Linked DNA regions of Homo sapiens. The protein of the gene in region 2 purifies or fractionates together with the protein of the main gene of each other region. This does not show direct contact. Each region holds a gene or a part of one and is shown on either strand. Other genes may lie near its edges.

Region 1 (4,434 bases), on a different chromosome or scaffold from region 2:
CACTCACAAACCCAAGATCTTCAGAGGCTTCATGCCACTCAGGGTGAATTCAAACTCCCAGGTGGAACTCAAGGCTTTTCCCAGTCTGCTGTCAGCCTAGCTCACTCACTTCACCCCATCTACCCTGGGGCCACCACTGCCCTTCTCCCAAGAGCTGGTGGGCAGGAACCACGCCTGTCACTTTATATCCACTGTCCCTTCGGGGGAAGGCACTTTCCCTCACTTGTTCTTGCCGGTCCTGATCATCCTTCAAAATGAAGCTCAAGTCCATCTCAGAGCCCCACCCCCACCACAATCCAGCTGGATGCCACGCCTTTGCGCCCACAGAAGGCTCTGTCCACCTCTGTGGGAGCTTCTACCATGTGTTTATTCTCCTGTCTCCTCACTGCACTATAAGCTCAAGGGCAGAGACCAAGTCTTAACACCAAATCCACAGAACACACGGCATGGTGCCTCCTATGAAGTGTGAATTCAATAAATGCATTTTTATTGTTTTGTTTTTCAGAGACAGGGTCTCACTCTGTTGCCCTGGCTTGAGTGCAGTGGCACAATCACAGCTCACTGCAGTCTTGAGCTCCCAGGCTCAAGTGATCCTTCTGCCTCAGCTTCCCAAGTAGCTGGGACCACAGGCACATGCCACCATACTTGGCTAATTTTTTATAGAGACGAGACCTCCCTATGTTGCCCAAGGTGGTCTTGAACTCCTGGGCTCATGCGATCCTTCCACCTCAGCCTCCCAAAGTGTTGGGATTGCAGGCGTGAGCCACCGCACCTCGCTTAACAAACACATGTTGAAAGGATACAGAAAATCATTGAATAATGAATTCAAGTTGGTCCTCAGTAAAAAGCCTGAGGTTTTGTTTCTTTGATTTTATCTCCAATTGAAAGGCAATGTTTGAAACAGCCACTGAAATTGCTGCTTTGAGTTGAAAAGGACTTCTTTCTTCCATTTACAGAGTTGTCATAACAGAAAAGGTATGCTCAGACAGGTAAAACATTGAACAGGGTAAATGTTAAGTGCTTTTTTTGTAACCTGCTTCATTGTCCTTATGTACTTTAAACCAGAAACCATCTAAAGGCAAACATTTAATATGTTTTCTGAGCTTGGCTCAATCTGTAGATAATTAAGAGCAACACTGCATGCCCAAGGTCACTCGAGCCTGCTGGACACTCCTGGCAGGTGTGGTCAGCGAGAGCTAGTAAGGCTACCCTACAGGTGACTTCACAGACCCTGGGTGGCCAAATTTATTGTTGTTATGAAAACCTTGCCTAGATTACTTCTGCATCTCGGAAGGTCACCCTCAACCCAGTGGAAAGCCACTGCAATAGTTGACATCTATCACTCCGACAAAAGGACCTTGATCCACTTCAACCATCATGTAGAGAAAACCTCTGGTCCGGCCCTGGCCAGGCTGTGGGGAAGCAAAGATGAACAGCGTGGCTCCCGCCCTCTTCACAGGGAAAGACAGGCTTCTAAGTAGAGCAAGCACTCCCCAATAAGTCCTCCATGTAAAGCCTCTATCTGAGTGTTCAGATTAGATGAGGATCAACCCTCAGAATAAAAGGCGGTGCACGCAGGGGTCACGCCACAGGCTAGGAACAGTAACTGTAAAATCTTCGTAAGATTTTCTGATCTTCTCTAATCTGGATTGGTTTTTTTTCCCAGTGTGTGTTCCTTAAAATGAAAAGAACCTGACTGCTTGTCTTCGCCGCAACTGAGCAAACATTTACAGGTGCCTACTGTGTGCTGAAGACAGAGCCCTGGCCCTCGGGCGGAGGAAACGCCACGTGTGCCATCTACAGGTGCCTACTGTGTGCTGAGGACAGACTGTGAAGACGGAGCCCTGGACCTCGGGTGGAGGAAACGGCCCACGTGCCAAATAATGGGACGGTTCCTTCTGCACACTGCCTGGAAGTCACCTGGTGACTCCAGAGCAAACACAGCAAAACAGGGAAAAATCACCCGCTAGTGCTTCTATCGGCACTGGAAGGGCAGGCTGACGCCCCCTTTCTGGAATAAGCTGCTGGGTAAAGACAGTGACATCGGCTTCACAACCACAGCCACCAACCTAACAGCCCACCTGCACCTCCACACCACCCAGGTGGCTTTTAGACAACCTTTGACCTTTAATATCACCCCCGCAAGCAGTAACCCGGGGGCCACAGCGCGTTTCCCTGCGGGGCACGGCCATCAAAGAAGGCCTGTGGCCAGGCCGCGGGGACTCCCGCCTGGAGGGGGCGGGAACAGGTGCAGCCCAGCCCAGGTGGGGCCGGCTCTCCCCTCCGCTGTGCTGGCTCAGGGCTGGGAGTCCCTGGCTTCCACCTCCCAGGGCCCGAAGGACAGCGGCCGCCTGGCACGGCGCACCCAGAGGGGCCCCCCACTGGACAGGGCCGGGGGCTGGCGGACCCCCAAGCGGGTGGTCGGTGGGGGCGTGTGTCATCCCTGGGCGGGGCGGGGCGGGGCCCGGGGCCGCTGCAGGTCCACAGGGCAGGGCGTATCAGAATCTGTTGCAATCTCACCGAGCCCCCAAGAGGATTTCCGACCCTGCGGAGACGGAAAGCGCCCCAAGGAAACAGTGACACAGTCACTCTTCCAGACGACACCATGCCCTGGGCCGGGCCGCGGGCCAGCGACCGGGCGGGGATCGGGCCTCGCGCCCAGGGGGTCCCGCTCCTGCGCCCCCTCCCGTAGGCCAAGCCGCAGCTGCAGCGCCGGGCGGTGCCGGGCTCTGGAGCCCCCAACCCGCGCGTGGCCGGGGATCCCCGCCTCGAATGGGGCCCGCAGCCCGGCCCCCACGCTCCCGCCCCCAGCACGCGCCGACCGCGGTGACAGCGGGGACCCGGCCCCGCCACCCGCCACCCCGCCGCGCGCCCCCCGCACGCCCCGAGCGCACCCACCTCCGCGCGCCGCTTTCTCCTCAGCCTGCCGCGCCGGCCTTTCTGCGCACGCGCGTGCTCGGCCCCGCCCCCGCCGAGCTGTCGCCCTGTGCCCACCCCGGAGAGCCCGCGGGGCTCCGGCCTGCCCGGCTCTGGGCATGCGCGCTGACGGTCGGCGGCCGCAGCGGCGGAAGCTGGGGCCGGCCGGGAACCGGTCCCGTGCGGAGAGGAGGCAACGGCAGTGCGGTCCCGGGGGGACAAGCCAAGGGGGGCGGGGGGTGGCACGGCCCTGCCGAGGGCATCGGGGGCCCGGACAGCCGCCTGTCGGAGTCGCGGTCCGGCCGGGTCACGCGTGGATCCGGAACCGCGTGGGCACGACGTCCCTTCCCGAGTCGGGGGAGAAGGGCTGGAAGGAGGTTCTGGGACGGGCCCTGAGCTGAGGAGCTGTGGCGCCGAGGGTCAGAGACGCGGCAGAGAGAGGGACGGCCGGACGGAGCCGGCAGACGGGGACACAGGCGGCCAAGAAAGTTACGGGACCCGGCAGCAGACGCCGCGGGGCGCCCGGACGCGGACGCCCAGCCCGCAGGGGCCAAGGCCGCCGCCCTCGTGGGGCTGCAGGAGGCAGGGGACGCCCTGTCCCCCCATGGGGGTCCAAGGCGCCTGCGGTGGCCACAGTCTTTGGGGAGGTCAGTGCGCTCCCTGGCGGGTCGCCGCACAGGTGGGGGTGCATCACAGCGGCCCCGGGGATGATCTGAGATCCCCGAGAGGGCCCGGCATCACGAAGGATTCACAGCCTTCCGGGTATCCCAGTGCCCCTGGGACAGGGCCGACAGCCAGAGGGCGGGAGACCATGGGGTCCTCCGGGTGTGCCATATCATCTGCCTCTGTGCGGGGCGGGCTGTCGCTGCGCCGGTCACATCCCCCCAGGGCCAGACGGGAGGTACCGAGGGAGCTGCCGGCGGGGACGGGGCGGCGGCCCAGGTGGCGACACGCGCGACGCGAGCAAGGACTCCTTGGCAGGCGAAGGCACAGGGTGAACGTGCGCCTAGATGTGGGAGCAGCGGCCGCCCTGCCCAGCCGGCGGGCTCAGGCGGCGCTGCAGCGCCCCCGCCGTTCGCGTCGCTGCAGCCTCCGCAGGCGCCGCGTCCACGCGTCCCTCCAGGGTAGCACGAGGCTTCCGCGGGCGGCGATGAGCCCGGGCCCCCGGCCCCCCGCGCCCCCAGCCGCGGCTCCAGGCCCGCCCCCCAGCAGGAGGTAGCGGCGGCCGGGGAGCAGGCGCGGGCAGCCGCAGGCCGCATCCCCGGCGGGCACCCACAGCGCGCTACTCCCGCGCCGCGCGCGCTCCTCTCCGCTCCGGAACACGGCGAGCACCGCCACCGGGAAGCGTGTCCACGCGCCGCGCGCCTCGCCGCGCGCACCCACCGCCACCTGCACCGCTGCGGGGAGAGCGAGAGGGGGCGGGGTCAGGAAGGGGCGGCCTGCCCGCGGTAGGGGGAGGCACGGGGAGGACACCAGGAGGGCAGTGGGGGCTGAAGGGGCGGGGTCGCTGCCCGTGGA
Region 2 (4,099 bases):
GATCCCCGCACATGCCAGTGAGGTAATAAAGACAGAAGAGATTTCAATATGTCAGCCAGTTATTAGTTGTCATTTTTAAAAGTTACTTTCAGCTGGGCGTGGTAGCTCACATCTGTAATCCCAGCACTTTGGGAGGCTGAGGCAGGCAGATCACTTGAGGTCAGGAGTTCAAGACCAGCCTGGCCAACATGGTGAAACCCTGTCTCTACTAAAAATACAAAAATTAGCCGGCCGTGGTGGCAGGCACCTGTAATTCCAGCTACTAGGAGGCTAAGGCAGGAGAATTGCTTGAATCTGGGAGGTGGAGGTTGCAGTGAGTCAAGATCACGCCATTGCACTCCAGCCTGGGCAACAGAGCAAGACACCATCTCAAAAAAAAAAAAAGTTACCTTCCCCCAATATTGTTGACACGCAAATGCATTATTAGTAGATAATATCATGGGTCGATGTTAATACTTCTTAGCATACTGCTTTTCTGTGATGTTCCTCAACTCTTAATTCCTCGTTGCAAGTATTTTAAAAGCAAACAACAACAGAAAACCAAAGTACTAAGCTAAAAAGGAAACTTTCAGATCTTTCAGGAAATTTTAGAAAGAACATTTTGATCATTTTGGAGAGAGTTCAGTATAAACACATAAGTCACGCACAAGAATATTTGAGCCAGGCAAGGTGGCTCATGCCTGTAATCCCAGCACTTTGGGAGGCCAAGGCGGGTGGATCGCTTGAGCTCAGGAGTTGGAGATCAGCCTGGGCAACACAGCAAAACCAAATGTCTACAAAAGATACAAAAAAGGAAAGCCTGGCATGGTGGCTCACACCTGTAATCCAAGCACTTTGGGAGGCTGAGGCGGGCAGATCACCTGAGGTCAGGAGTTTGAGACCACCCTGACCAACATGGAGAAACTCCATCTCTACTAAAAATACAAAATTAATTGGGTGTGGTGGCACATGCCTGTAATCCCAGCTACTCAGGAGGCTGAGGCAGGAGAATCGGTTGAACCCAGAAGGTGGAGGTTGCGGTGAGCCAAGATTGCGCCATTGCACTCCAGCCTGGGCAACAAGAGTGAAACTCCATCTCAAAAAAAAAAAAAAAAAATAGCCAGGTGTGGTGGCAGGTGCCTGTGGTCCAAGCTACTTGGGAGGCTGAAGTGGCAGGATCACTTGAGCCCAGGAGGTCAAGGCTGCAGTGAGCTGAGATCATGCCATTGCACTCCAGCCTGGGTGACAGAGTGAGACCCTGTCTCAAAACAAACAAACTAAATGTTCCACCACAAGCTTATCCTTATTGGACTTCTACCACATGCCAAACATTGTTTTAAATGCTTTATACATATAACTCATTTAATGTATCTCTCCTGCATTTTTAGATAAAGAAACTGAGGCACGGAGAGGTTAACTATGTCACAGGCTAAGTAGAAGTGAGGCACACATTTGAACCCAGATGGCCCTGAAGTATGTATTACAACTTTACGCAGGATAACGTCTTGCCTGACTGAAATGGTTAAAGAAGTGAGCCACGTTCTATGAAATTTTGTGCATGTAAAAGATTACATTTTAGAGGCCGGGCGTGGTGGCTCACGCCTGAAATCCCAGCACTTTGGGTGTCCAAGGCGGGTGGATCACTTGAGGTCAGGAGTTGGAGACCAGTCTGGCCAACACAGCGAAACCCCATCTCCACTAAAAATAGAGAAAAATAGCCAGGAGTGGCGGCGCACGCCTATAATCCCAGCTATTTGGGAGGCTGAGATAGGAGAATCACTTGAACTTGGGAGGCGGAGGTTGCGGTGAGCTGAGATTGCACCACTGCACTCCAGCCTGGGTGACAGAGTGAGACTCCATCTCAAACAGCCTGGGTGACAGAATGAGACTCCATCTTAAAAAAAAAAAAAAAAAATTACAAAAATCAGCCGGGCGTGGTGGCGTGCACCTGTAACCCCAGCTACTGCGGAGGCTGAGACATGAGAATCGCTTACACCTGGGAGGTGGAGGTTGCAGTGAGCAGAGGTTGCAGTGAGCAGAGATCGCACCAACTGCGCCTCAACCTGGGCAACAGAATGAGACTCTGTCTCAAAAAAGAAAAATAAAATTACATTTTAGAATATTTAATAATGAGAAAATGCTCATATTACTGTTTTACGTGTAGGAATAAAACTATATACACAATAACATCATAGGTATGTGTGTAGATATATGCCACACACATACACACATGGAAAATAACATACTAGGACATACTAGGAATTACCCTAGCATGTAGCAGTGATTATCACCTGGGTGAAGGAATTATCATTGGATTATTATCAGTAATTATTACTTTATATTTGTTGTCTTTTCCAAAGTTTTCCACCCTTAACAATTTTTTTCACATACCTATAAAACAGTATTTTTAAATTGGAGCCTCACAGATCTCTTCTGCTCAGTATGACACTAAGAGAGGTCCTGGAGGTCCCAACGAGCGAAGGGGCGGGAGCGGGGGATCTCGACTCCCTCTCGGAGACGGAGAGGAGGAGGCCCGCTCCGTGCTCCCCGGCGCTCCTGCCTTGCCTGCTTTTCCGCTCACCCGGCCCCTGGGGTCCGGAAGGGTTGCCCTGGGAGCCCTGGCTCGCCGTCAGCAGGCACAGGTGCGGTCTACACTGCCATCTGGGGCGCTGGGGAAGGAGTGGGCGTGTCCCCCGGGTCACCGCCGACCGCTCCCAGGGGCGCCAAGCCCACCCGGAGCCCCACTTAAGCACTCCCCTCGCGGAGCGCCCCTCCCGCGTGGCCTCCCCGCGCCCCGGGTACCTGCAGGGCCATGGTGGCGGCTGCCGCGTTGTTGCTGCTGCTGTTGTCGTCCGGTGCTCTGCCCCCTCTCGCACCCACCGCTTCTTAAACGGCCGCGTCTCCTCCGGCCGCTGCCATTGGCCGCGCTCCCGGCCCGGCCGCCTCCCATTGGTCGCGGGCGCGGGGGCGAGGCTGGGCGGTGAGCGGTACTGCACGCCGGGTTCCCCAGGCTGCAAATGGAAAGGCGAAGACAGGAGAATTTAAATGAGTTTCTCTCCGCTCTTGGCTCTCTCTTCTATTCTTTCTCAAGCGGTTCTTTGCAGGAAACCCAGAGAGGTCTCCGTAGGGCACAGGCCTCCCCTGGAATGCCTTCGAAAGAAAGAAAGAAGGAGAGAGACAGAGAGAGAGAGAGAGAGAGAAAAAATATATATATATATAGAGAGAGAGATATATATTTATCTAGAGAGACCCGCCCCAACTCTCTTAAAATACATATGTAATTTTTTCAATTTAAAAAAATTTATACATGTAAATATGTATTGGCCGGGCGCGGTGCCTCACGCCTGTAATCCCAACACTTTGGGAGGCTGAGGCCGGCAGATCACCTGAGGTCGGGAGTTCGAGACCAGCCTGACCAACATGGAGAAACCCTGTCTCTACTAAAAATACAAAATTAGCCGGGTGTGGTGGCGCATACCTGTAATCCCAGTTACTCGGGAGGCTGAGGCAGGAGAATCGCTTGAACCCGGGAGGTGGAGGCTGTGGTGAGCCAAGATTGCACCATTGCACTCCAGCCTGGGCAACAAGTGTGAAACTCCGTCTCAAAAAAAAAAAAGAATAAGTAAATATGTATTTAAAATTTTATAAATTAAAAATTTATATATATAAATTTTTTTCAGAGGTTGGGGTCTTCCTAGGTATATATATATTATATATTTTTTCTCTAAAAATTATATATAAATTTATATATATTTAAAATGTTAAAAATTAAAAATTTTATAAATTAAAAGTGCAAATTAAAAAATATATATATATGTGTTTTTTTTTTTTTTAAGAGAGGTGGTGGGGGGGGCGTCTCACTAGGTTGCCCAGGCTGGTCTCGAACTCCTGACCTCAAGCGATCCTCCCACCTCGGCTTCCCGAAGCACAGGATTCCTTCTTTATACATACTTCTCTCATGTCCATTATTCCTAGAAACGTGGATGATGGATGTGTCTCCTCCACGCTGCCTCCAGGCGCTGTTTATCATGAGAGAAAGTGGCCTGTGGTTTGCACCTCTTCTCTTTATAAAGCAAAACCACCTAAATTCTGGACACATGCTATAATCAGCTTAACTTGT
Region 3 (3,642 bases), on a different chromosome or scaffold from region 2:
ATGAAACCCCATCTCTACTAAAATACAAAAATTAGCCGGGCACGATGGTGGGTTCCTGTAATCCCAGCTACTCGGGAGGCTGAGCAGGAGAATCACTTGAGCCCAAGAGGCGGAGGTCGCAGTGAGCCAAGATCACACCACTGCACTCCAGCCTGGGCGGCTGAGTGAGACTCTGTCTCAAAAAATAAAATAAATAAATAAATAAATAAATAAATAAATAGCCGGGCATCGTGGCGCACACTGGTAATCCCAGCTACTCGAGAGGCTGAGCAGGAGAATCTCCTGAATCCAACAGGCGGAGGTTGTAGTGAGCCGAGATGGCACCACTACACTCCAGCCTGTGTGACAGAGCAAGACTCGTCTCAAAAATAAATAAATTAATTAATTAAATAAAATTAAAAAAAACAGAAAAACACCTCAACACTCAACCAGTGCTTGTCTCTGTGTTGCAGAGTTATGAGTGACTTTGGTTTTTTGTTTACCCCTCTTCTACTTCCTGGATTTCCTACCATGTACATGAATTACCTTTAAAGTTTAAAAAAAGAAGGAGTAGAAGTAATTTTATATGAAAAAGAAGGTTCAATGTTGACACTAAACAACCAGGACATTCTGGGCACCCCTCAGTTCCTGGGCCTGCCCCCATACTCACACCCTGAGCACTTCACTCAGGAGGGACCAGGAAGAGGTAGGGACAAGGAAAGACAAGAAATCACATTCAGGCTGCAGAGTACAGCGAACGGCTCCCACCTGAAAACCACTGGTAACAAATACTGGGAGATAAAAATGCTGGTTCTTGGCCGGGTGCAGTGGCTCACGCCTGTAATCCCAACACTCTGGGAGACTGAGAGGGGCGGATCACCTGAGGTCAGGAGTTTGAGACCAGCCTGACCAACAAGGAGAAACCCCGCCTCTACTAAAAATACAAAATTGGCTGGGCGTGGCAGCGCATGCCTGTAATCCCAGCTACTTGGGAGGCTGAGGCAGGAGAATCGCTTGAAACTTGGAGGCAGAGGTTGTGGTGAGCTGAGATCGTGCCACTGCACTCTAGCCTAGGCAACAAAAAAAGAAAAAGAAAGAAGAAAAGGCAAACGCTGCTGGGTGCAGTGGCTCACACCTGTAATCCCTTTGGGAGGCCAAGGTGGGAGGATCACTTGAGTCTAGGAGTTCGGGACCAACCTGGGCAACATAACAAGACCTCATCTCTACAAAAATAGAAAAAAATTAGCCAGGCATGGTGGCACGTGCCTGTGGTCCCAGCTACTTGGGAGGCTGAGGCAAGAGAACTGCTAAAGCCCAAGAGCTCAAGGCTTCGGTGAGCCATGATCCCACCACTGCACTCCGGCCTGGGTGACAGAGCAAAACCCTGTCTCAAAGAAAAAAAAAAAGGAAAAGCTGGAGCTGGAACAAGGCCTTGGGGAAGGTTAACACACTCTACACTCCAGACCCCAGAGGAAGGGGCCTGCCTCTCAGATTATCAATCTCCAGCCTGAAAAGCTTGGATCTGGTCACCCTCATCACAACATCACCCCTTGATCAAAACCCTTGGTGCCCTCAGTGTTTCTCAGGACAGGCAAGTGGAAACCCTTGCTGAGCTATCATCCACCTGCCATCCACTAAGGGACAGCCCCTTTGGTACAGCAGCTCAGGCTGGCCCTCCACATATGGGCTCTCTCCCCTTCCTGCCCTCTGCTGGGCAGGCCTTTCTCTGCTTCCTCAGTGGGCCAGCTCCACCTGGGCTTTCAGGATGCAAAGCTCTGTGGCCTTACTGTGGCCACGGGGCCTGGGAACACACTGCCTTTGTTATCTTCCAGGAGCTCTGGGGCGGCACCTGCATCCCTTTGCCAGTAGTTTGTCACCCCATAAGGGCAGAGGTTTTTTTTTGTTTTTTTTTTGAGACAGAGTCTCACTCTATGGCCCAGGGTAGTGTACAGTGGCACGATCTCAACTCACTGCAACCTTTGCCTGCCAGATCCCAGAGATTCTCGTGCCTCAGCCTCCTGAGCAGCTGGGACTACAGGCACGTGCCACAATGCCCAGCTAATTTTTTGTATTTTTTAGTAGAGATGGGGTTTCACTATGTTGGCAAAGCTGGTCTCAAACTCCTGGCCTCTAGTGATCCTCTGTCTCAGCCTCCCAAAGGGCTGAGATTACAGGTGTGAGGCAGCACACCTGAACTCAAGGCAGAGATTTTTACTCTGTTATACCCCTTCCCTCTGCACCACAGCTGGCTGGCAGTAAATAACTGCTGAGTGGATGAGTTGGCAGGCTGTCCTCTGGGCTTCCACATACCCCTCATTTCTCTCTTGCCACAGTGAGCCTCCCAAGGGCATCTGGGTCATTCCTTGGATCATCAGGCTATGGCTGGGTGCAAGCACATGCTGACTGCCCTCACAAGCCAAACCCTGTGCTGGTGACCCTCAAAGACTCACATCCAGGCCCCATCCAGGCCCCAGCAGGCACTTACTCGCCAGGATGTGGGGGCTGAGGGCTGGCCACCTGATTCTGCTTGGCTTTCTGTTCCATTTTGGCTTCAATTTCCCGTTTCTTCTGAGCGATGAGCTCTTCCTGGTGAAGGATGTTCATGTTCATTTTTCCAGATTTAGGGGGAGCAACCCCAAACCACCGGTTAGCCTTTCCTGGGGAGGGAAAAGGAGTACGTCGGAAATCACCCTTACTCCACAAACACCCCAAGAAGCTGTGACAGGCCAGAGAGCAACTGATGTTCAGATTAATTTATATGTCTATTAGTTCATTTATTCAGCAAACACTTACAGAGTGCCTGCTGCATACCATACCCTGTACTTACTACGTGCTATGCAAGAGAACACAGGTCTCTGCCCACGTGGGACTCGCTTCAGGCTGGGAAGACAATAGACCCATAATAAAAAAGTAACTTTCGGGCTGGTGCAGAGGCTCATGCCTGCAATCCCAGCACTTTGGGAGGCAGGGGCAGGCGGATCACTTGAGGTCAGGAGATCGAGACCAGCCTGGCCAACGTGGTGAAACCCTGTCTCTACTAAAAATACAAAAATTAGCTGGGTATGGTGGCATGTGCCTGTAATCCCAGCTACTAGGGAGGCCGAGGCAGGAAAATTGCTTGAACCAGGGAGGTGAAGGTTGCAGTGAGCCGAGATGGTGCCACTGCACTCCAGCCTGGCAACAGAGCAAGACTCTGTCTCAAAAAAAAAAAAAAAAGTAAGTGCACAATGTGGTAAGAGCTCTGCTGAAAACCAAAAAAGGGTGAAAAAGTAACAGGAGAGTACATATGCAGGTAGGACAGGCAGAAAATAAACACTAGAAGAGGAGACATTTAAACCAGAAAAAACAAATAAGAAGCCAGCGTCATGAAAAGCCAAATGGGAGATGATCTGGGCAGAAGAAGGAGCAGATGTGAAAGCTCAAGGCAGGAAGAAGCCTGGTACATCCAAGGAGCAGCAAGTGCCCAGTGTCAGAGGGGCCTGCTCCAGGGACAGGCAGAGGTGAGGCATGTCAGAGCATCTGTGCTTTATTATAAGGGCTTTGGGGAGTGATGGAGAAGCACTAAGATGAAGAATGCAAGATCCATTGGGTCTTTTTTTGAGACAGGGTCTGGCTCTGTTTCTCAGGCTGGAGTGCAGTGGTGTGATCTCAGCTCACTGCAGC

What was found.
Region 1: the proteins of ACBD7 (region 2) and TBC1D24 purify together in Homo sapiens (affinity purification with mass spectrometry; 2 studies listed by BioGRID and IntAct, with this or other methods). This does not show direct contact.
Region 3: the proteins of ACBD7 (region 2) and SUGP1 purify together in Homo sapiens (affinity purification with mass spectrometry; 2 studies listed by BioGRID and IntAct, with this or other methods). This does not show direct contact.

Annotation. Positions count from the first base shown.
Region 1 is NC_000016.10:2,473,635-2,478,068, reverse strand, and holds the start of TBC1D24 (TBC1 domain family member 24), read right to left. Parts: upstream 2,943-4,434; 5' UTR 2,899-2,942; intron 1-2,898. Other genes in the region: NTN3 (netrin-3 precursor), read right to left, coding at 3,964-4,313. UniProt on the Homo sapiens protein: May act as a GTPase-activating protein for Rab family protein(s). Involved in neuronal projections development, probably through a negative modulation of ARF6 function. Involved in the regulation of synaptic vesicle trafficking.
Region 2 is NC_000010.11:15,085,936-15,090,034, forward strand, and holds the start of ACBD7 (acyl-CoA-binding domain-containing protein 7), read right to left. Parts: upstream 2,842-4,099; 5' UTR 2,794-2,841; coding exon 2,782-2,793; intron 1-2,781. UniProt on the Homo sapiens protein: Binds medium- and long-chain acyl-CoA esters.
Region 3 is NC_000019.10:19,313,958-19,317,599, forward strand, and holds part of SUGP1 (SURP and G-patch domain-containing protein 1), read right to left. Parts: intron 2,637-3,642; coding exon 2,465-2,636; intron 1-2,464.